Linked DNA regions of Homo sapiens: region 1 is linked to region 2. A link means that fine-mapping ties the variant in region 2 to the expression of a gene that starts in the linked region. Tissue or cell type: Th17 cells. Region 2 holds a variant in brackets; the other region holds the start of a gene. All regions are shown on one strand. Distances are between the middles of the regions. Region 1 holds the start of LINC01395 (long intergenic non-protein coding RNA 1395). Region 2 overlaps LOC124902793 (a long non-coding RNA gene).

What was found. PIP is the estimated chance that this variant, and not a neighbour inherited with it, causes the effect.
Region 1: it holds the start of LINC01395, and the variant in region 2 is the best candidate, but not a certain one, in a credible set for the expression of LINC01395 in Th17 cells (Schmiedel 2018, PIP 0.66).

Annotation. Positions count from the first base shown.
Region 1 is chr11:129,614,757-129,619,981 of GRCh38, forward strand. It overlaps LINC01395 (long intergenic non-protein coding RNA 1395), which reads right to left and starts at 2,513. Exons shown (of 4, transcript NR_120582.1): 1 at 2,255-2,513; 2 at 551-779.
Region 2 is chr11:129,807,166-129,812,390 of GRCh38, forward strand. The region is part of intron 1 of LOC124902793 (a long non-coding RNA gene); the gene reads right to left. Among named protein-coding and RNA genes, the nearest start is that of TMEM45B, 6.1 kb to the right of the region's middle. The variant ATG/A (reference allele first, on the strand shown) is at 2,319.

The sequences.
Region 1 (5,225 bases), 190 kb before region 2:
GCAAGTAACCCTTAAGGTGACTGCCGCACCCTGTGGCCCACACAGAGAGGCTCTCTGCCCAGCCCCACTTGTCTGCAAAGGATATCCTCCAGCCTGTCTAGAGTCCACAAGGTCCAGGCTGGAGAGAAAGAGGCCAAGGAGCCAGATGTCTCTCTCTCACCCACGACCTACTTTCTGAGATCTTACTTCCATACTGAAGACAGGCCTCCTTCCCAGGGGATACCAGAAGTCAGAGTTCCTTTCAGTGGGTCTTGCCTTATTATATTCAGTAATGTGGCCCAGCAAATAAATATGTCAATTCAACAATAAACCCTGTGTCTATACATGCAACGCTCCCTGGAACAGCAGGGAAAGGGAAGAGGAGGGGAATTTGATTACAAGTGCTTTATATTTACGCTGTCTCATGAGATGCTTCCAACAGGCCTATCAGATATTTTAGAACCATCATTCCTAATTTGCAGATAACAAAATTTTGGCTTGGAGAGGTTAAGGGAATGACCAAGCTAAGCCCAGTTCTCCTGTCTCCCTCCCTTGAGTTCAGGATACCAACCCAATCACTGAATCTTCCCCAGGAACGAGCCTGGGGCCAGGGTGAGAAAGGGGCTTCCCGGAAGTGCTGAGTTAAATCGGCACTGGATGCAGCCACGGACAAGGGGACATGGTGGTTGTCCCTCTCTCTGCCAAGTTGTAGGTCAGGAGACCTGGTTCAAGCCCAGGCTTTGCCACTTGGAAGACTGTATGGTCTGAAATCATTCTTCTCAGTGCCTCAGTTTCTGCATCTGTGAAACGGTGAGGAACAAACCAATTAATACACATAAAGCCCTTAGTGCCCTTGATGCCTAGAACATGTAAGTATTTAATAAATATCAACATTTTTATTAACATTGTTATTGTTACTGTTATTCCCTTCCAAAGTCTTGCAAGAAGTAAATGGGATGACAGATGTGAAAACACATTATAAGCTATAGAGGTAAGAAATGACCACTCATGTATGCTGAGAAGGTAACAGGAAAAAGGGCTTGGCCTTAGATAATGTCATTGAACAGCCTCAAACTTTCAACAGAAAGCACAGAAATATTCCAAAAAGAGTACTCCAATAATTTGAAACCAGGCCACCGAGTCCAAGTTCTTGCCACAGTTCCAGGGCCGAGGCTGTTTCCCAAGAGCCCTGTAATTGCTTTCAACCTGTGCCTCACCCAAACACCACGGCTGGCGCAGGTGGACACCTTCCGTCTCTTCTCCTTCCAGGCTGGGCCCCAGAAAGAAATACTCCAATAATTCACCTTGTGGTTTTCAACTTTAGACCAGATTGTTTGTTATGTATATAACTGTTTGCATTTCACTTACTTATCCTCAATCGTCACATACCTGGGAGGGAAGGAGGCTGCACAGAGCCCCCGGAGCCCCAGCCCCACGTGGTTACACCTGCCCACGCTTCTGGTCTAAGTAGTCCTTGGGTGCCTTAGTGTGAACGGAGCATACAATTAAGCTCTGTCTCTCTTTCTCAGCTAACTCAGGTGCAATCCTTCTTGACAGTCTGGAGGAACCAGGCAGGCTGGCCACCAAGTGAGGGGAAGTTGCTGCTAGCTCATTAATGGTTGAAAGCCCAATAGTACCACCCCTCACTGTCTTGTAGCAAAGACCCTTGGCTCATGTTTAGAATGTTAGCCAAATAGGAGTCACCGAGTGCAACTTTATGGCAGCACTCAGCTGGAAACAGTGGGGCATCTAGGGGAAGTGTCCGTGCTCGGTCCCTGCCCTTACACGGATCAGTCTGGCTGATGGAATGAGACGAATGAAATGGAAACAATGAGCAAATCATAAAAGGCAGTACTGTCATGAAGAGTTTGATTTTATGGCACAGAATGCAATTGTTAGAGTTAGAGTAGGGAGAGATGGCCAAGAGCTAGAGTGGGCAGGGAAGGTTCCTGTGGGAAGAGGTTAGCTGGGCCTTTCAGGTATGCAGGAGTTGAACTGGTGGGAGGGAGAGTGGCATTCCAAGTTGGGGAAGCTATGTGAGAGAATCTAGGAGACAGAAAAGAACAAGGGCTGTTTATAGAGCAGAGGCCAAACTGGCATGACTAGAGTAGAAGGAGGGCATCCTAATTCCCAGCCTTATCCACCGCTTTGCAAGAACCAGGAAAATGAATTCCTGTTGGCCATAAAACTAGTTGCAGGTGATGTAACCCATCCTATTCGGCCTCCCATATTTACAGCTATACAGGAACAACTCTCTGAAACTCAGTCTCCTCACCCGTAAAATGGGATGGTAATACGTGCCCCTGGGAGCCAGCGAGAATTAAAAGGGATAAGATGCACTGGCTCCCAGGGGCAAGCACTAGCAGACAAGGAATAGGGCAGTCCTCCCTTCACACTCCACAGAGAAGAAATGTCCTCCAACTCTCCCAGGAGGCAGAGCCCAGCTCTCCTTCCAAACAGCCTTGGAGTTGCTTGGCCTCTCCACTTCTTCAACGAAGTTGTGGGCAGAAGACAAATGCAGAGTTCTCTTGTACCTGACAAGGAGAGAGAAGCAGACCCTGTGTGAGTCTCTTGCTGTTGACGTTGATCCACAGGGGGTGCAGGATGGGACTGAGGCAGGCCCACCTGCCTGGAAAGCCTGCCTGTACCCTGACCCCATGGGGCCCTAACACACACCCTCCCAGCCACAGGGGCTCTGCAGAGCTAAGCCAGCTGTCCTATGGAGGTGGGGACCCTCCTCCTGCCCTGCCACTCTCTCTTTCTCCTGGAGAGGACAGGCAGGTGGGCATGGCCACAGGAGAACTTCTCGAAGGTGCTAACTGGCCCAGAGAAAGAAAGGTGGCCTGGTAGGGAGTTGTCTACCAGAGATTGAGAGAGCATGGGAGAAGTTGAGAGGGAGGAGGAAAGTGCACGCCATCCTGCGCGCAGCCTCGCCTTAGGGAAAGCATGTGTGAGAAGTGGTGGTAGGCGGTTGCTAGCCTTGGAAACAAACAAACAGCCAACCAAAAGGCTTCGGAAGGAAGGAGTGTCTAATTAATCAGCCCCGAGGGACAGGTCCGCACTGCCTGACTGTGCTCCTCAGCCTGGTTTCAGGCCACCGAGTCCAAGTTTCTGCCACAGTTCCAGGGCCGAGGCTGTTTCCAAAGAGCCCTGTAATTGTTTTCCACCTGTGTCTCACCCAAACACCAAGGCTGGCGCAGGTGGACACCTTCCCACTTTTCTCCCTCCAGGCTGGGCCCCAGAAATCAGTAGAGGAGGGAGGAATCAGTCAGCGTGGCCATGCCTGGGAGGAGAGGCCCGTGTGGGTCTGTGGGGCTAAGAGGCAAAGGCGGGTGGCGGATGTGGGCCAGCGGGAGCCTGGAGGGGTTGACACCGCCTGCTCCACCGCAAGCCCCTGGAGGAAGAGCCCCGCTGTGCCCGAGAGCGAGCGCGGGCAGGTGTAACTACCCGGGGCTGGGGCTCCGGGGGCTCCGCGCAGCCTCCTTCCCTCCCAGGGACACCGCCCAGCTGCGCCCCGCGCCCCGCCGACTGCGCGGGCCTTGAGACGCTGGTGGCTGCCTCGGGGTTGGCCTGCTCCTCGCGCACATGTTCAGGGTCATCCGCGCTGCGCCTCTGCTTCAGGTGCTTGGCTAGAGAAAGGGCGGCAAGACGGGGCAGTGCGTGTGCGCGCGCGGGCAAGTGCATGTGAGTGCACACTTATGTGAGCGCATGTGTGTCTGCGCTTGTGCGTGTCCAGGGGAACCACAGGGAGCACCCTCATTCTAAGCCTCCAGAGGACTGCCTGAAGCCGCTAGATAGAAACTCCCCTAGAATGTAAGCTCCGGGGGGGAGGGAGCTTTGTTTGATGGCTGCTGTATTCCCAGTGCCCATTGAAGTACTGGGGACACATTAGATGCTTAATAAACAGCTGTTGAGTTAATCAACGGACTCTAGGAATGGAGGCAGACCGGCCCTTCTGGAACTGGAGAAAGGACAAGGCCACATTTCACCGTCTCCTCTGTTCTTGGTACCAGCCCTGGCGTCCCCGGCAACGCCAATCCTTCTCACATCCAGCTTGTGCCAAGTTTTCCTCCCTGCTCGTGTTTACACCTTCTCCCCTTTGTCTCTGTTTCCTGCTGGCCCCTGTGTGTAAGCACCCCAGCAGTCAGAGTGAGAGGAAGACGAAAGAAGCAGAATTCTGGAAATAGAGAGCTACCAGGGTGGCCTCTTCCTTCTGGAAGGACACGGAAAGATGGGGTGAGACTGGCGCTCTTCTTCAGCTCCTCCCTTTGGGAATTGGGACTTTGAGCTTCAGTTTCCTCACTTTGAAATAGCAGCTATTCCACCTGCCTCGCAGGATTGTTGCAAGAAGTCAGGCAGGAGGCTGAAAAGTTCTGGAGCACATGATAGGTGCTACAGAAACGTTCGTTTCGTCTCCTGACTAGCATCCAACAGTCTGGGAGTGCCCCAGGTGTGGCTGAGGGTGGTTATGGTTTGATAACCACCACCAGAACACCCCTCCTTTTTTCACAAAATGCCTTGAGGAGAATTTAATGGCTGTCGAAAATTAAGGCAAGCTTCATTTCTAAAACATTCAGGAGTCAATATGTTGTGAGTCATGTATTCCGTCGGGGCCTCCACTCACTCCGGAGGGAGCTTTTCCAAGTAATTAAACAACGATGTCGTGATCAAGCTGAAGTCCACCAGCCCCAGCCTTTCCATTCGGGACCTTCTCCTGCACATGCTGCAGCTGCCTCCAAGACTACTGCGATGGAGATGAGCAGATTCTTCCTTCAGTTGTAGAGGGAGACACTGCGAAAACCTAATGCTGTCAATAACGCTTTTCATCTCGAAAGGAAGGATCCGATTTCACTCTTTTCAGCCTGATTTAAGGACCCACCAGAAAAAAACAAACTTCATGGGGTAATTAGGAAATTATCCTCTTACAAATTGGTAGATGTCGTCTTTTTTTCCTTGGGACAAGACAGAAAGGACATTGTTTGTCTTTTACCATGGTGAAGCTGCTGCGATTAACCATGCCACCTGGGGAATGGTTCACTTGTGGGTAAGCTGATAGCCTGCTGTTCCAGGGTGCGCCTGCCAAGGTACTCCAGAATAACATGTTACATCCTCTGTGCACCCCTTCCCGATGAAAGGAAAACTTCAATCACATTTAGTTAAAGGAGCCCTTTAAACCTGGCCTGTCAATATCCTGGAGGTGGAGAATTACACCAAGGTTAAGAAAAGGTTTCCCAGAACTGGCTAGA
Region 2 (5,225 bases):
AATAAATGTGATACACCACATAAACAGAATTAAAAACAAAAATCACACAATCATCTCAATAGATGCAGAAAAAAATGATTCAACAAAATCTAGCACCCCTTTGTGTCTAAAACTCTCAGCAACATCAGCATACAAGGAACATACCTCAAAGTAATAAAAGCCATCTATGACAAACCCACAGCCAATATAATACTGAAAAGGGAAAAGTTGAAAGCATTCGCTCTGAGAACAGGAATAAGACAAGGATGCCCACTCTCACCACTCCTCTTCAACATAGTACTGGAAGTCTAGCCAGAGCAATCAGACGAGAGAATGAAATAAAGGGTAGCCAAATCAGTAAAGAGGAAGTCAAACTGTCACTGTTTGCCTTGAAAACCCTAAAGACTCCTCCAGAAAGCTCCTAGAACTGACAAAAGAATTCAGCCAAAAGAATCTTGTTTTTGGATACAAGATTAATGTACATAAATCAGTAGCTCTTCTATACACCAACAGTGACCAAGCAGAGAATCAAATCAAGAACTCAACCCCTTTTCCAACTGCAAAAAAAAAAAACCTTAGGAATATACCTAACAAAGGATTCAAAAAACCTCTACAAGGAAAACTACAAAACACTGCTGAAAAAAATCATAGATGACACCAACAAATGGAAACACATCCCATGCTCATGAATGGGTAGGATCAATATTGTGAAAATGACCACACTACCAAAAGTAATTACAAATTCAGTGTAATCCCCATCAAAATACCACCATCATTCTTCACAGAACTAGAAAAAAATTCTAAAATTCATATGGAACCAAGAGAGCCCACATAACCAAAGCAAGACTAAGCAAAAAGAACAAATCTGGAGGCATCACACTACCTGATTTCAAACTATACTATAAGGCCATAGTCCCCAAAACAGCATGGTACTGGCATAAAAATAGGCACTAGACCAAATGAACAGAATAGAAAACCCAGGAATAAACCAAAATACTTAGGGCCAACTGATCTTTGACAAAGCAAGCAAAAACACAAAAGTAGGAAAAGGATACTCTATTCAACAAATGATGCTGGGATAATTGGCAAGCCACATATAGGAGAATTAAACTGGATCCTCATCTCTCACCTTAAACAAAAATCACTCAAGATGGATCATGGACTTTAAGACTTGAAACTATAAAAATTATAGAAGATAACATTGGAAAAACCCTTATAGACATTGGCTTAGGCAAGGATTTCATGACCAAGAACCGGAAAGCAAATGCAATAAAAACAAAGATAAATAGCTGGGAGCTAATTAAACTAAAGAGCTTGTGCACAGCAAAAGGAACAGTCAGCAGAGTAAAAAAACCCACAGAGTGGTACAAAATCTTCACAACCTATACATCTGACAAAGGGCTAACATCCAGAATCTACAACAAACTCAAATCAGTAAGAAAAAAACAGCCGGGTGTGGTGGCTCACACCTGTAATCCCAACACTTTGGGAGGCTGAGGTGGGCAGATCACCTGAGGTCAGGAGTTCCAGACTAGCCTGACCAACATGGTGAAACCCTGTATCTACTAAAAACACAAAATTAGCCAGGCGTGGTGGCAGGTGCCTGTAATCCCAGCTACTTGGGAGGCTGAGGCAGGAGAATCGCTTAAACCTGGGAGGCAGAGGTTGCAGTGAGCTGAGATCTCACCATTGCACTCCAGCCTGGGCAACAAGAGCGAGAGACTGTCTCAAAAAACAAACAAACAAACAATCCCATCAAAAAGTGGACTAAGGACATGAACAGACAATTCTCAAAAGAAGATATACAAATGTCCAACAAACACATTAAAAAATGCTCACCACCACTAATGATTAGGGAAACGCAAATCAAAACCACAATGAGATACCACCTCACTCCTGCAAGAATGGCCATAATCAAAAAAACAGTAGACGTTGGTGTGGATGCAGTGAACCAGTAACACTTCCACACTGCTGGTGGGAATGTATACTAGTACAACCACTATGGAAAACAGTGTGGAAATTCCTTAAAGAACTAAAAGAATTATCATTTGATCTCGCAATCCCAGTACTAGGTATCTACCCAGAGGAAAAGAAGTCATTATTTGAAAAAGATACTTGCACATGCATGTTTATAGCAGCACAATTTACAATTGCAAAATTGTGGAACCAACTCAAATGCTATCAACGAGTGGATTAAAAAAACTGTGGTGTGTGTATATATATATATATATATATATACACACACACACACACACATATACACGTATACATATATATACATATATACGTGTATATATACATATGTGTGTGTGTGTATATATATATATGTGTGTGAGTAT[ATG/A]TGTGTGTGTGTGTGTGTGTGTGTGATGGAATACTACACAGCCACGAAAACGAATGAATTAACAGCATTTGCAGTGACCTGGATGAGACTGGAGATTATAATTCTAAGTGAAGTAACTCAGGAATGGAAAACCAAACATCTTATGTTCTCACTGATATGTGGGAGTTAGCTATGAGGATGCGAAGGCACAGAATGATACCATGGACTTTGGGGGTTTGGGGAGAAAAATAGGAGGCAGTCAAGGGATAAAAGACTACAAATATGGTGCCTTGTATACTGCTCAGGTGATGAGTGCACCAAAATCTCACAAATCACCACTAAATAACTTACTCATGTAACCAAATACCACCAGCACCCCAATAACTTATAAAAAAAATTTTTTTAAAGATAATACAGCAATAGTCAAGTGGGTTTCATACCAGGAATGCAGGGATATACAAGTCAATAAATGTAATATATCCAGTAAACAGAATTAAAAACAAAACTCATATTATCCCAATCAACGCAGAAAAAGCATTTGACAAAATTCAGCATTGCTATATGATTAAAACCCTCAGAAAAATTGGCATGGAAGGGACATACCTCAAGGTAATAAAAGCTATCTGTGACCAACCGACAGCCAACATTATACTGAACAGGGAAAAGTTGAAAGCATTCCCCCTGAGAACTGGAACAAGCCAAGGATGCTCACTTTCACCACTTCTATTCAACATAGTACTGGAAGTCCTAGCCAGAGCAATCAGACATGAGAAAGAAATAAAGGGCATCCAAATCAGTAAAGAGGAAGTCAAACTATTGCAGTTCACTGATGATAAGATTGTATACCTAGAAAACTCTGAAGATTCATCCAAAAGGCTCCTAGATTGGATAAATGAATTCAGTAAAGTTTCAGGATACAAAAATCAATGTTCACAGGTCAGTAACACCACTAAATACCAACAGTGACCAAGATGAGACACAAATCAAGAACTCGATCCCTTTTACAACAGCTGCTATATGTATTATATATATTATATATTATAATGTTTTATTTTATAATATATAATATGTTATTTCAGCATTGCTTTATGATTAAAACCCTCAGAAAAATTGGCATGGAAGGGACATACCTCAAGGTAATAAAAACTATCTATGACACACACACATATATATATATATAAAACCAAGCAGGTGAAAGACCTCTACAAGGAAAACTACAAAACACTGCTGAAAGAAATCACTGATGACACAAACAAATGGAAACACATCCCATGCTCATGGGTAGATTCAATATTGTGAAAGCTGTCAAAAGCAATCTACACATTCAGTGCAACTCCTATCAAAGTACCATCATCATTCTTCACAGAACTAGAAAAAAAAATCTAAAATTCATATGGAACCAAAAAGGACCCCTCATAACCAAAGCAAGACTAAGCAAAAAAAAAAAAAAAAAAAAAAAAAAAAACATCTGGAGGCATCGCATTAACTGACTTCAAACTATCCTACAAGATTTATACCAGTACCAAAACAGCATGGTACCAATATAAAAATAGGCACATAGACCAATGGAACAGAATACAGAACCCAGAAATAAAGCCAAATACTTACAACCAACTCATCTTCAACAAAGAAAGCAAAAACACAAATAGGGAAGGGGCACCCTATTCAACAAATGGTGCTGGGATAACTGTCTAGCCACATACAGAAGAATGAAACTGGATCCTCATCTCTTACCTTATACAGACATCAACTCAAGATGGATCAAACACTTAAATGTAAGACCTGAAACCATAAAAACTTTAGAAAATAACGCTGGAAAAACTCTTCTAGACATTGGCTTAGGCAAAGATTTTAAGACCAAAAACCCCAAAGCAAATCTAACAAAAACAAAAATAAATAGATATTACCTAATGAAAACACTTCGGCACAGCAAAATAATCAGCAGTGTAAACAGACACCTCACTGAATGGGAGAAAATATTCAACTATGCGTCCTACAAAGGACTAATATGCAGAATCTACAAGGAACTCAAATCAGTAAGAAAAAAAGAAATAATCCCATCAAAAAGTGGGCAAAGAACATGAATAGACAGTTCTCAAAAGAAGATACACAAATGACTAACACATGAAAAAGAATGCTCAACATCACTAATTATCAGGGAAATGCAGATTAAAACCACAATGAAATACCACCTTACTTCTGCAAGACTGGCCATAATTTACAAAGTCAAAAAATAGTAGATGTTTGCATAGATGTGATGAAAAGGGCACTTTTACACTGATGGTGGGAATATAAACTAGTACATCCACTGTGGAAAACTTTATGGAGATTCCTTAAAGAACTAAAAGTAAAACTACCATTTGATCCAGCAGTCCCACTATTGAGTATATATCCAGAAGAAAAGAAGTCATTATATGAAAAAGCCACTTGCATCTGCATGTTTATAGGAGCAAAATACACAATTGCAAAAATATGGAACCAGCCTAAATGCCCCTCGACTGACAAGTGGATAAAGAAAATGTGATATATTTACACCATGGAATACTACTCAGCCATAAAAAGGACTGAAGTAATGGCATTTGCAGCAATTTGTACGGGAGTTGGAGACCACTATTCCAAGTGAAGTAACTCAGGAATGGGAAACCAAATATCGTGTATGTTCTCACTTATAAGGGTTTGCTGAACTATGAGGATGCAAAGGCATAAGAATGATATAATGGGCCGGGTGCAGTGGCTCACAACTGTAATCCCAGCACTTTGGGAGGCCAAGGCAGGCGGATCATGAAGTCAGGAGATTGAGACCATCCTGGCTAACATGGTGAAACCCTGTCTCTACTAAAAATACAAAAAATTAGTCGTCGTGGCACGCGCCTGTAGTCCCAGCTACTCAGAGGTCTGAGGCAGGAGAATCGCTTGAACTTGGGAG